4 linked regions of the Homo sapiens genome follow. The protein of the gene in region 2 interacts with the protein of the main gene of each other region in a pairwise test. Each region holds a gene or a part of one and is shown on either strand. Other genes may lie near its edges.

The links. The genes of interacting proteins can lie anywhere in the genome.
Region 1: the proteins of MEST (region 2) and KIFAP3 interact in a two-hybrid assay, tested with the Homo sapiens proteins (one large-scale study listed by BioGRID and IntAct).
Region 3: the proteins of MEST (region 2) and ZNF205 interact in a two-hybrid assay, tested with the Homo sapiens proteins (one large-scale study listed by BioGRID and IntAct).
Region 4: the proteins of MEST (region 2) and CRELD2 interact in a two-hybrid assay, tested with the Homo sapiens proteins (one large-scale study listed by BioGRID and IntAct).

The regions. Positions count from the first base shown.
Region 1 is NC_000001.11:170,029,696-170,033,195, reverse strand, and holds part of KIFAP3 (kinesin-associated protein 3), read left to right. Parts: intron 1-1,211; coding exon 1,212-1,310; intron 1,311-3,500. UniProt on the Homo sapiens protein: Involved in tethering the chromosomes to the spindle pole and in chromosome movement. Binds to the tail domain of the KIF3A/KIF3B heterodimer to form a heterotrimeric KIF3 complex and may regulate the membrane binding of this complex.
Region 2 is NC_000007.14:130,504,525-130,506,965, forward strand, and holds the end of MEST (mesoderm-specific transcript homolog protein), read left to right. Parts: intron 1-414; coding exon 415-532; 3' UTR 533-1,941; downstream 1,942-2,441. Other genes in the region: COPG2 (coatomer subunit gamma-2), read right to left, coding at 2,152-2,282.
Region 3 is NC_000016.10:3,111,228-3,115,385, forward strand, and holds the start of ZNF205 (transcriptional repressor RHIT), read left to right. Parts: upstream 1-1,358; 5' UTR 1,359-1,455; exon of another isoform or gene 1,456-1,723; intron 1,724-2,121; exon of another isoform or gene 2,122-2,189; 5' UTR 2,190-2,203; coding exon 2,204-2,260; intron 2,261-3,567; exon of another isoform or gene 3,568-3,660; intron 3,661-3,740; exon of another isoform or gene 3,741-4,127; coding exon 4,128-4,158.
Region 4 is NC_000022.11:49,924,836-49,928,037, forward strand, and holds the end of CRELD2 (protein disulfide isomerase CRELD2 isoform b precursor), read left to right. Parts: intron 1-581; coding exon 582-722; coding exon of another isoform or gene 723-835; exon of another isoform or gene 836-1,733; intron 1,734-2,419; coding exon 2,420-2,472; 3' UTR 2,473-2,702; downstream 2,703-3,202. UniProt on the Homo sapiens protein: Protein disulfide isomerase. Might play a role in the unfolded protein response. May regulate transport of alpha4-beta2 neuronal acetylcholine receptor.

The DNA.
Region 1 (3,500 bases), on a different chromosome or scaffold from region 2:
TTAGAATCTTTTCAGGTTTATAAATTTTCTATGCATACCATAAACTTCTGGCATCTAGATTGATAGTGACTCAACTACATCAACAACCCAAGAATCCTAGAGACTTTACATCAGTTCTGGAGTCACAAGACTCCTGAATGCTTCAGTGGTACCCAAAATTTATTTAAACTGGAGAAGTATGGAGGGAACCACTAGTGGAACTCTTTAGCAATCATGAATTTGCATTTTGTTATTGTTTGGTGACAAGAACTGATATCTTAGGACATATTGTATTTCTGTATCAGACACCATTAATTTTAAGATTCACTATTGTTTAAGTGCGAGGAGAGGAACATATGCTTTCAATTAAACTATGACACATCAGGGATTATAAGACACATCCAGTTTTGGAGATGTTAAGATGTGAGGAAAATGTATCTTAGACTCAACAGATTATGGTAATTGAAGGGATATAAAAATGACATCAGAATTCTGGTCATTTCTCCTGACATGTTGCTATTTTATTATGTCCTAAATTTCTTTGTATTTTGATACAAGTGGTATTCAACAAGGTCAGCTGCATTGACTCATATTCTGGGGTCATATGCTTGACTCATATGCTTGGGGATACTGAAGTAACTGATTATTTTTGCAAGAAGTCCAGAGGACGATTTGGGACCAGAAGATGTGATTTTTAAAATTTGTTTACCTTTAAGTTTGGGTTAGTTCTTTCTTGGCATCTCTAGTCTGAAAAGGCTGCTACAAAAGCTTTAGATTTAATCTATATCCTTTGAATATTCTGGGCATCTGTCTGAAGTAAAATCCAGTGTTCTTAGTAACTAAATCACTTTCTGAGGCAGTAATTTTTTTGGTTCGTGGACCCACTTGATAATCTGTTGAAAGTTATAGACTTGTGCACCTATATAAAATATTCACATATAGTTTCTGGGAATTCAAGTATTTGGTGAGGTTCAAATATCTATATGATGTTAGCTGTGGGCTACATAAAAAAGTTTGTTCACCCAAAGACTCCCAGGGAATCCATGAGCACTTAAATAAGAAGTGCTGTTACAGCACAGTTATTATGCAGATAACATTTTAGTTAAACTTTTGGTGAGAAAAATAACTGGATAAAGTTGCACATAAAATTTAATAGTGCCATTGTTCATAGAATTTATCAGTAGATTTTTTTTGCTTCAATGAGTATGGATGATCCTTAACAAGTTGTTTACTTGATGAAGACCCTGAAAACCAAACCTTGAGAAAGGATTATGAAAAAACCTTTAAAAAGTACCAGGGGCTTGTGGTAAAACAGGAACAGCTATTACGAGGTATGAATTCCTAAGCAATGAGGAAAGCAACAAAGTACTTACTCCAAATACATTTGTTTTGTTCACTTTTTATCATACCTGTAAAGCTAATGTGAGAATAGCTGAAAGTTCTATAAATGTTAATATGCTACAAGTTCGTCTGTCTTTAGCATGGGTAATGTTTTAAATTTCACTCTACTATTTTTCCCCATTTAGTTCCTAAATGTTTGTATACTTATTATTTATTTCCTAAGAAAGGATTTTTTAATCCAGTGTGTGACCTTTTCAATAATATCAATCTTTGTCTCTTCAGCCCTAACTTACTTGTTTTATAAAGTGAATTATTTTGTTGCTTTCCTAGGAAATTGATATAAACATTTTAAAATATTTCTCTTGTTTAATAGAAAAGAATTCCTTGTCTCTAGCTTTATTAAGATATTTAAAACTTCAATAGTATGGTTTCTTGGTTACTGATAAGATGTAAAATCTTATGGTGGTTAGTGATAATGACATGGGGCTTTTAAGTGTGAATTTAAGTCCGGATTTATACTTGACTATTTGATGATTCATGTAGTTTATTGGTGTTTGACTAACTTTGTACATGGAAATACTTGTTAACTCCCAAAATATTTTCATCCTGTGAAGATTAGTAGCAATTTTAACTACACTGAGTTTTTTAAATATTTGAAGCCAAGTAATTTAGTTCAACCTGTTGGAGAAAATGTCAGATTTTCAAAGGTTCATTTTAAAATATGCTAGAAAATAATAGGTATTATCTGTGTTAGCATATAATCCAAAATGCATCAGATCTCAAGAAAGCAATTGTTTTCATGTAAAAGTTTCAAAGAACTAATTTGACTTTTTTAACATGCAAAACTTTAAGCTCTGTTTCTAACCAAATATTTATGCAAATATTGTATACTCTCTTAACAGCTTTATTGAGGTATAACTGATAGACAATAAACTGTATAGTTTTAAAGTATATAATTTGATAAATTTTAACATATGTAAATACCCATGAAATAATGACCATAATCAAGATAAGGTACATATCCATCACTCCCAAAATTTCCTCATGCATCTTTACAATCTCTCCCTTTCCTTCTTCCTTCTGCCTTCTTCCTCATTCCCAAGTCATCACTGATCTGCTTTCTGTCACTTTAGCTTAGTTTGCATTTTCTAGAGTTTTATATAAATGAAATCATATAGTATGTATGCATTTTTGTCTTTTACTCAGCATAATTAAAGATTCATCCATATTATTGCATTTATCAATAGTTTATTCCTTTTTGTTATTGAATAGTATTTCCTTATATTCACCTGTTGATGATCATTAGAATATTTCCAGTTTTTGGCAATTTTAATGCTGCTGTGAACATTTTTCTACAAGTCTTTGTATGGACATACGCTTTCTTTTCTCTTAGTTAAATACCTAATGATGGAATGGCTGAGTCATAGGATAGGTGTATGTTTAACTTTGTAAGAAACTGCCAAATGTTTTTCTATAATAGTTGTTTTTATATTCTCACCATGAATGTATGTGGTTTTGATTTGAATTTCCCTAGTGACTGATTAATGTTGAGCATCTCCTGATGTGCTTATCTGCCATCTCTTTATGTTTATTGAAGTGTGCCTTCATAACTTTTGCCTTATTATTAAATTGGATAGTTTTGTATCCATTCTTTATATGTTTTGGATATAAGCATTTATCAGATACATGATTTGCAGAAATTTTTGTTCTCCTAAAGTATCTTTTTAAGAGCAGAATTTTACATTTTTATGAATTCCAACTTAGTGTTTTTTGGATCATGGTTTTGGTATTGTGTCTAAGAAATCCTTTCCTAACTAAAGGTTACAATTATTTTCTAATATGTTTTCTTCTAGAAGTTGTATAGTCTCAGAGTTTAGTTAAGGCTATAATATATTTTGAGTTAATTTTTGTATATGGGGTGAGGAATGGATCAAAGTTCTTCATTCTTTTTGCATATAAATAGCTAATTATTTAAGTACTACTTTTGAAAACACTATCTTTTATCTACTGAATTGATTTATATCTTTGTCAGAACCATTTGTCCAATGTGTCATGCCTATTTTTGGGTTTCTATTTTGTTCTATCCATCACTTTTGTGTGTTTTTGATGCCAATAGCACAGTGTCTTCATTACCATAGCTTATGGAAAATGTTGATATTGGGTGCTTTTAGCCCTACCAA
Region 2 (2,441 bases):
AACAGCTTGCATATAATTTTAAATAAAATACCCCCTCTCTCATCTCCTCCTGGGATTAAGGGAAGATCCTTGGTTATCTCTGCTTGGGCAGTGAGTTGCTGTGTGATCCACTTGTTTGATGCTTCATCCTTCTCTAAGGAGCTGAAAGTCATCTTGCTTTGACAATTGTTGCAAAAGTGTTATATTTTCAAGTTGTTGTTTGTTGGATTATGAACATTTAAAAACTAGTTTGTATAAATGGAATTGGCAAGTTTATCTGCCTAAGATACAATTTCAGAGTAGAAGGTGAATAAGCTCTTTGGTGGCTCCTTCCAGTGTGGTGTGTCCACAGGGTCATTTACTGGGGCTTCCCACTGGCTTACATCCCTCCCGCTCCAGCCTCAAGTTCACCTGCGTGCTGTTCTCTTCCACTAGGAAAACGCTGCCGCGGTCCACAGTGTCGATTCTGGATGACCACATTAGCCACTATCCACAGCTAGAGGATCCCATGGGCTTCTTGAATGCATATATGGGCTTCATCAACTCCTTCTGAGCTGGAAAGAGTAGCTTCCCTGTATTACCTCCCCTACTCCCTTATGTGTTGTGTATTCCACTTAGGAAGAAATGCCCAAAAGAGGTCCTGGCCATCAAACATAATTCTCTCACAAAGTCCACTTTACTCAAATTGGTGAACAGTGTATAGGAAGAAGCCAGCAGGAGCTCTGACTAAGGTTGACATAATAGTCCACCTCCCATTACTTTGATATCTGATCAAATGTATAGACTTGGCTTTGTTTTTTGTGCTATTAGGAAATTCTGATGAGCATTACTATTCACTGATGCAGAAAGACGTTCTTTTGCATAAAAGACTTTTTTTTAACACTTTGGACTTCTCTGAAATATTTAGAAGTGCTAATTTCTGGCCCACCCCCAACAGGAATTCTATAGTAAGGAGGAGGAGAAGGGGGGCTCCTTCCCTCTCCTCGAATGACGTTATGGGCACATGCCTTTTAAAAGTTCTTTAAGCAACACAGAGCTGAGTCCTCTTTGTCATACCTTTGGATTTAGTGTTTCATCAGCTGTTTTTAGTTATAAACATTTTGTTAAAATAGATATTGGTTTAAATGATACAGTATTTTAGGTATGATTTAAGACTATGATTTACCTATACATTATATATATTTTATAAAGATACTAAACCAGCATACCCTTACTCTGCCAGAGTAGTGAAGCTAATTAAACACATTTGGTTTCTGAATAAATTGAACTAAATCCAAACTATTTCCTAAAATCACAGGACATTAAGGACCAATAGCATCTGTGCCAGAGATGTACTGTTATTAGCTGGGAAGACCAATTCTAACAGCAAATAACAGTCTGAGACTCCTCATACCTCAGTGGTTAGAAGCATGTCTCTCTTGAGCTACAGTAGAGGGGAAGGGATTGTTGTGTAGTCAAGTCACCATGCTGAATGTACACTGATTCCTTTATGATGACTGCTTAACTCCCCACTGCCTGTCCCAGAGAGGCTTTCCAATGTAGCTCAGTAATTCCTGTTACTTTACAGACAGGAAAGTTCCAGAAACTTTAAGAACAAACTCTGAAAGACCTATGAGCAAATGGTGCTGAATACTTTTTTTTTAAAGCCACATTTCATTGTCTTAGTCAAAGCAGGATTATTAAGTGATTATTTAAAATTCGTTTTTTTAAATTAGCAACTTCAAGTATAACAACTTTGAAACTGGAATAAGTGTTTATTTTCTATTAATAAAAATGAATTGTGACAAAAGTGGACTCTGGCTTCCCCTCCCCCCTCCCCCCCACCCCTCTGGGATAAAAATTTTCCAGCATTGCCAGGAGCTTTCAGGTACACATTAAAGAATAAAATGAAGTTAAGCAGCTGGAGTATAGGATAGTATTTGATTTTCAAGATCACCCAAAGCTGCACTATCGTCCCAAAGCTGACCAAGTAGAATAAAAAGAAAAAAAAAAAAAAACAACCCATGCGCAAAGATAGACATTTGCTTGATCTGCTGGCTCAGGGCCAAATGTTTAATTTGCTTCTCCAAAGTCATTCATCTTCAAAAGTCTGATTCTGGGAAACTGATGCCACTAGCCTAAAAGCCCACTGACCATGTAGTGTGCATCAGTTTCCTCTTGTCCAGTAAGCATTTATCCAACAGAAGCTAAGATAACATCTACAGGTGTTCTCTCTTTACTTCTGACAGTCACCTGCATGGTCACTCCATCGGCTAAGGCCAGCCTGGACCTCACCAATAAATCATAGCCACCTCTGAATATACCTGAGAGAAAAAAGTAAGGAAAACCATATTAAGAACCCAAAACAAGCACTGGATAATGAAATTTATCATGCTATCCCTGCATCTCCTTTCTATTAGTTTAGTTTAGCTTTTCCAGAGACTTGTGGAAACTGAATCCTAAACAAACATAAATTCCAAATA
Region 3 (4,158 bases), on a different chromosome or scaffold from region 2:
CACTTGAACCAGGGAGGTGGAGGTTGCAGTGAGCCAAGACCACGCCATTGCACTCCAGTCTGGGCCACAGAGTGAGACTTCATTTCAAAAAAAAAAAAAAAAAAATTAAACCCTCTGGGCATGATGGCTCACACCTGTAATCCCAGCACTTTGGGAGGTGGGAGGATTGCTTGAGATCAGGAGTTCAAGACCATCCTGGGTAACAAAGCAAGACCCCCATCTCTACAAAAAAATTTAAAAAATTAGCCAGGCATGGTGGCATGCGCCTGTGGCCCCAGCTACTTGGGAGGTTGAGGTGAATTGCTTGAGTCCAGGAGGTTGAGGGTACAGTGAGCTATGATCGTGCCACTGCACTTCAGCCTGGGTAACAGAGCAAGACCCTGTCTCAAATAAGTAAATAAATAAACAAACAAACCCTTAAAAGCCCACACAACATAGCACGAGCTGGTACAGAGGCAGCTGGGCCCATCTTACTGTGTGAAGCTGTGCACCTCAGGGGATTCTGGTGAGCCAAAGACAGTGGCATGGGGACGTTTCCTAGGGAAACTTCCTGGAATCTGATTCCAGGACTGGGCCCCTGGCCCTTTTCCTGACACCCAGCCCCCATGCCTGCCCAAGAGAAATGGTTCCTTCCCCCAGAAAGTAAAGCACAGTCTCTGTCCTCTCTATTTGAGGCCTTACTTCTCAGGGTCTAAAGGGAAATGGTGCCTGAGAGGCAGAATCTGCAGCTGCCAGGCGTGTTTGAGAACTTAGAACCCCATTTATAGCTGGATCACACCCTCTATCCCCAAGCTGAAATGGGCCTGGAAGAATCGGATTAACCAACTTCTTCCCAAGGTGTGGGGCATCCGGATTGGGGGGAGTTCCCAGCCTGTTTCCCAAGTTCACTCTTAGGGAGAGAGTTCTGTGCCAGTCTTGGGGGGACCCAGAGGGCCCTTGACTAGGAGTCCCTAAATGAATTCAGGGTCCCTCAGGAGACAATAACCTTCAGAAACCCCGAGTGCTAAAATAAATGGTCCTGCCCTCTCCACCCTGCAAAATGCCCTTCTTTCTACCTGTGAGGACAACTGCAGTGCTCGCTTTGAAATTTCAAATAACACAATCTTTCCACAAAATGCATCTTCCATTTTTCTGTTTTGGTGGCTCTGCCTTGCTGGCATCATGAACGCGTCCTGGGTAAAGCCATCCTCATGAGCTGGCATTGCGGCTCTGGGAGTCACCTCCCGGCCAAGAGCAGGTGCAACCCAGGCTCGAGACTCCACACCCGGAACCCTCAAAACCGGGAACGCTGTAGGGCTGCGGCTGCATGGGGAATGGGATCTGGGAGGGACTTCCTGTCTTCCCTACTCCCAGTCTCCACCCAACTCCCCCGCCCGCCCCGTGCAGGCTGTGGAGACTCCCTTCCCGGGGGAGGGGGCCCCCACTGCCGCAGGTGCCCCCTCTGCCTCCACCCCGGTGAGAAGGGGGTGCTGGGGAGGGCATCTGGATCCCGAGACCGGCGCAGATGATCAGCTTGCAGGAGGGGATGGGGTCAAAGGTGGAAGGCTTCAAGCTGGCAGGAGAGAAGGGGGCCAGGACCGGGTTTGGGAAGGAGAAGGACATTGTCTGCCAGGACCGAGAGCAGGATGGGCATCCCAGGCCTGGGGCAGGTGGTTGCAGCTGCAGGGGGGCTGCTGAGAGCGGGCAGGTTGATTTCTGAATTCCTGGTGGGCATGGGAGTCAGGTAGGGACACACGGTGTATGTCCTGGGGTCGGGGGACAGCAGGTCCTGGATTACCCTGGCCTTGACGGGCGGGGCCCCACCAGCACCTGTTCTGCAGGATCTCTGCAGAACTTTCTGCTCCTGATGACAGGAAATAGCGATTCCAATTTAGCCTCGGCTTTCCCTGAGCCGGTTACACTGAGATGCGAGGCTCTTGCTTCAGCAATAAAGGGGACAATACAAAATAGCATTCTTTCAAAAATAGGACCCAGAAAACATCACAGAGAGTGGGACCATCGGATAGGATCTGGGAGACTTTCTTTCCGATTGGGACCAGGGAGCGCTGGTACTCGTGGGGATTTTCAGGGCTCTTTGGGGGTGTCCAGGAAGCGAGGGCTGGTTTCTGTCTGCTCTTCTAGGCTCCTGGCCAGAAGCTGGAGGGGGCTTGGCCAAAAAGAGGGAGAAACAACTCAGCTGTTCTTTCTAGCTCTGAAATAGAAAATGTCTGCAGACGGCGGAGGCATCCAGGACACCCAGGACAAGGAGACACCCCCGGAGGTACAGATGGGGCTGGCTGAGGGAGGTGTGCGGTAGAAGAGGCTGGTGCGGAGGAGATTTTCAAGGCACAGAGTCTGGACCCCTGGAAGAGTTAGACTCACTGGGGTGGGGAGATCAAAGAGAAGGTGGCATGCTGGGTAGTACCCTCTGTCTGGAATTTACAGCATAACAGTTTTGCTTTGCTGGTGAATTCTCTAGCCAGTGGCCACAGGAGATGGAAGAGGTCTGGGTGGAGGTCCTATCAGTGAGGTTTTCTTTCTGAGCAGCGCTCAGAGCACACAGGGAAACCTGTTCTCCTTCCCCGTGCTTCTCCACCTGGAACCACAGCTTCTCATCTCTGTGGGTCTGAGCTCCCGGTCCTTTCTCCTTCCTGTACCTGCTACCCGTGTGTGTGTGCGTGCGTGGTTGAGTGTGTGTGTGTAATTACTATTTGTGGGGGACCTGGGTCTCCGGGCTTGGAGTTGGAGGAGTATGAGTCAGCGACAGGCCAGGGGCCAGTCCCTGGCCTCTGGGAACCAGATGTGTCATCTGTAAAATGCAGACCACATGCCTGCCATTTCCACCTGTCTCGCAGGGTCACTGGGAGGCTCTAAGGATAATAGGCATGAGACGCCATCATCTATGGTTTTCATGCCATAGAAGCACAAAGAATTGTTAGCATGGTTCAGTTTCCCATCCACTTCCCGTGTGCCTTGAACACCTTGGGCATGTCAGTAGAGCCCCACATGTTGGCATTCTCTGCTGGCACTGGCTTCTGTCTGGTGCGCACGGCGGGGGGGATTAATGACCAGCGCCACCCTGTGTTTATCCAGGACTTTCCTGAGCTGGCAGCTCCTTCTCCATCATTATCTGCGTGAACCTCATGACCATTCTGTGCAGGGGCAGAGCAGCTGCGTCCTGAAGGCTGCCTGATTGGGGAGGGGTGTCGCTGGGTCTGGCACCCAGGCACTCTGATTCCTGGCCTGAGGTTCTTTCCCTTCAAGACCCAAACACAGACAGGGCGTGGAGGAAGGAGTGTGAGACCCCAGCAGAAGTCCGGCCAGTTCCTGTGCTGTGGATGAGGCCCCACCAGGGCCCTCCCTGACTTTCCCAAAGCTTTTGAGCTATGTGGTCACGGGGCATTGTCTCATCCCCAGCCATGGTGTGTTAGTCTCCCGTGGCTGCTGTAACAAGTTTCCACTCTCTGGGGGGCTGAAAACAACCAGAATTGGCTCTCTCACAGTCCTGGAGGCCTGCAGTCCAAAATCTAGGTGTCAGCAGGGTCACACTCCTTTTGAAAGCTCTAGACTAAGAGGACCCTCCCTTACCTCTTCCAACTCCTTGGGGGCTCCTGGTGTCCTTGGTGTGGGCATCCCTCCAGTCTCTGCTTCCTTCTCTGTGTCTCTGTGTCCTCTCCTATTCTTATAAGGACATAAGTCATTGTTAGATTTTAGGCTCACTCTAAATTCACGATGATTTAATCTCAAGATCTTTAACTTACCTGTATAAAGACCCTTTTCCCCAATAAGGTCCCATTCTGAGGTCCAGGGAGGACACGGATTCTTAGAGGACACTATTCAAGCCACTACACTTGGTTTCTTCATACACTAATAGACAGCAGTCTACACTGCTGAGGTCAGTGTGAGGCTGGAGCTGAGAAGGGGTAGCTGCCCTTGGGCACCACGCCCACCGGCACTGTGGAGGCGGCTTGGTGAATATTCCTCCTCTTGCCGCCCGTCCTTGCTGGGGTGAGCTGGATGAATGCAGCAAGGACAGTCCTTCAAGCTGCGTCTTGCATGTTGGTTTCCGACGCTGCCGGAGCGCACTGCCATGTGGCCCTGGGTGTCTCTCCCACTCATCTGGGTGCTGATGGGGCTGTCCTTTCTAGGTTCCAGATCGTGGACATCCTCATCAGGAAA
Region 4 (3,202 bases), on a different chromosome or scaffold from region 2:
GAAAGTGGGTTTCCTGGGCAGGCGCCATGGTTCATGCCTGTAATCCAGCACTTTGGGAGGCTGAGGCGGGGGGATCACGAGGTCAGGAGATCGAGACCATCCTGGCTAACACGGTGAAACCCCATCTCTACTAAAAATACAAAAAATTAGTCGGGCGTGGTGGCGGGCGCCTGTAGTCCCAGCTACTCGGGGGGCTGAGGCAGCAGAATGGCGTGAACCCGGGAGGCGGAGCTTGCAGTGAGAGGAGATCGCGCCACCGCACTCCAGCCTGGGCGACAGAGCGAGACTCCGCCTCAAAAAAAAAAAAAAAAGGAAAAGAAAGTGGGCTTCCTGGGCGCATGCTGGCCTTCCGGCCCCACCTGGAGGTCTCTTCTCTGCATTTTCTACCAGTTGAGGGCCCAACTTGGAGACGTGAAATTCTTCCCTCTCGAAGCCTTTCCTGATCTTTGCTCCTTTCTGTAACGTGACGTTTGTCATCGTTGTGCTTTCTTTATGTGAATGAATCTGAATGAATGAATTTCATAATCCGCTGCGCGTCTGCTGAGCAAAGTAATTATTAAAACGGAGTCTTTTCATTTTAGATGTGGACGAGTGCTCACTAGCAGAAAAAACCTGTGTGAGGAAAAACGAAAACTGCTACAATACTCCAGGGAGCTACGTCTGTGTGTGTCCTGACGGCTTCGAAGAAACGGAAGATGCCTGTGTGCCGCCGGCAGAGGCTGGTGAGTGGCACGGCTGCCCTCCACACAGGCTGCCCTCCCCTGGGCCGCAGGGCTTGCACGTAGACTGGCTGCTTGGTCTGAAATCCACACAGATGGTGGCCTTGAGATGGTGAGAGGGGGATTCCCGGAAGACAGGTGCATGACATCTCTGTGTGGGCACGCTTGCGCGAGAGGTACTGGCTTCCTGAGGATGAAGCCCCAGGTTCACAGCTCAAACGGAAGTTCAGGCGATGAAGGGGGAAGTCTCTGAAGCTCAGACCTCAGCGGGCGATGAGCAGAGGAGCAGACGCAGGAGAAGAGGCAGCTAAAGAGCTGGAAAAGTCATCCGGGGAAGCTGCCCAGGGTGCCGCAGAGACAGGGACAGGCAGGAAGTGGTGGAGGGCAAGCGGGTCCCCCACACCTGTTTCCTGGGGCTACCTTACCAAGAACCAGGAACTTAGGGCTCCAGCAACAGAAATGTGCCGCTCACAGGAGCCAGAAGTCAGAGGCCCAGACGCAAGCAGGCTGCTTCCTTGGGAGGCTGGGTGGGCGCGTCTGTTCCGGGCCTCTGTCCTCGCCTGGGGATGCCACCTGCTCCCCGTGTCTTCACGTGGTCTCCATGCGGGTGTCTGTCTCTGTCCAAACCTCCCCTCTTTGTAAGGACACCAGTCACTAATGCCCTCATGTTAACCTGGCCAGTGGTAAAGACCCTATTTCCAAACAAGGTCACAATCACAGGTACTGGGAGTAAAGACTTCAGCGTGTTTTGGGGGACATAAATCTGCCCGTGACAGTCCTCACAGAAGTCTAGAATATAGAGAGTGGGAAAGAAGCAGTGTTCAAGGAGATATTGGCTAAGGGTTTTTCAGAATGAATAAGGCACGATTCAGATTCCAGAAGCTGTTTCCTGAGCAGGACAAATAAAAGCAATTCCACATCTAGAAGCATCGTAGTAAACAGCAACAGCAAGACAGAACTGAGGGGTTAGCAGAGACGGACAGGCCAGAAGACAAGGCTGCCTGCTACCCCCTCGGTCCCCTCTGCCCTGGGCTGGCCCTGCCTCTTGCCCCTCCCTCCCCCCACCCTCGGTCCCCTCTTGCCCCTCCCTCCCACCACCCTGGGTCCCCTCTTGCCCCTCCCTCCCCCCACCCCGGGTCCCCTCTTGCCCCTCCCTCCCCCCCTCTTGCCCCTCCCTCCCCCCACCCCGGGTCCCCTCTTGCCCCTCCCTCCCCCCACCCCGGGTCCCCTCTTGCCCCTCCCTCCCCCCACCCCGGGTCCCCTCTTGCCCCTCCCTCCCCCCCGTCCCCTCATTCTCCTCCCTCCCCCCCACCCTCGGTCCCCTCTTGCCCCTCCCTCCCCGTACCACCCTCAGTCCCCTCTTTCTCCTACCTCCCCCACCCTCGGTCCCCTCTTTCTCCTCCCGCCACAACCATTGTTCAGGCTCCCATTCTGCCAGGCCGCAAGGAACCCCTTGCCGCTCCCAACTCTGCATCCTCCACACCCACGGCAGCGTGGGGGCTCTGAAATGCCGTCTGCCTCATCTCTCATCTGCTTTGTGGGAAACGGGGGTCTCCGAGCTGCCCTTGGATGGCTGCGTCCGGGGCTTTGAGCCAGGACTGGACGGGCAGGCCCTGCACATGCGCTGCTGTCCTGGGAAAGGCCTCATCCCCAGGGCCCTTTGTGCTCAGCCTTGACGACCTATGCTTGTTTTCTGACAGAAGCCACAGAAGGAGAAAGCCCGACACAGCTGCCCTCCCGCGAAGACCTGTAATGTGCCGGACTTACCCTTTAAATTATTCAGAAGGATGTCCCGTGGAAAATGTGGCCCTGAGGATGCCGTCTCCTGCAGTGGACAGCGGCGGGGAGAGGCTGCCTGCTCTCTAACGGTTGATTCTCATTTGTCCCTTAAACAGCTGCATTTCTTGGTTGTTCTTAAACAGACTTGTATATTTTGATACAGTTCTTTGTAATAAAATTGACCATTGTAGGTAATCAGGAGGAGAACGGGCGTGGGTTTGTCTCATTAATCAGGACGGACCTTTACCACTGAGTTTGCACCTGTCCTGCCAGAGCCGGGAGTGACCAGGGCTGCCGAGGTCCGCAGAGGCAGCAGGTCCGGTCCTGGGCTGGTGGCTCTGCTGTCCCTGAACAGGGCTCACGTGCCGCTTGGGGGAGGAGGGGAGGGCCCTGCCTTGGGCGAGAACCTGAAGACGTGACCAGGTGGGTTTCAGGGGTCCAACCTATGGGCCCTCTTCAGTGATTCAAAGGATGTACAAGCAGGGACCCTCAGGCAGGGGAAAAGCATCTTTGGGGGCTTCGCTGGAGGAAACAGCCACTCACAAACCGCAGGGCCTGCCCGTTCCTCATCTGGGAATGAAGACACTGCAAGAAGAAAGCTGGCTGCGGGTGAGAGGCTGCAGGCTCTGGGAGCTCCGTTCCGGGGGGCCATGGCCTCCTCCCTGGGCTCCTCATAGCCCCCAAGTCCCACTTGGCCTGGTCCC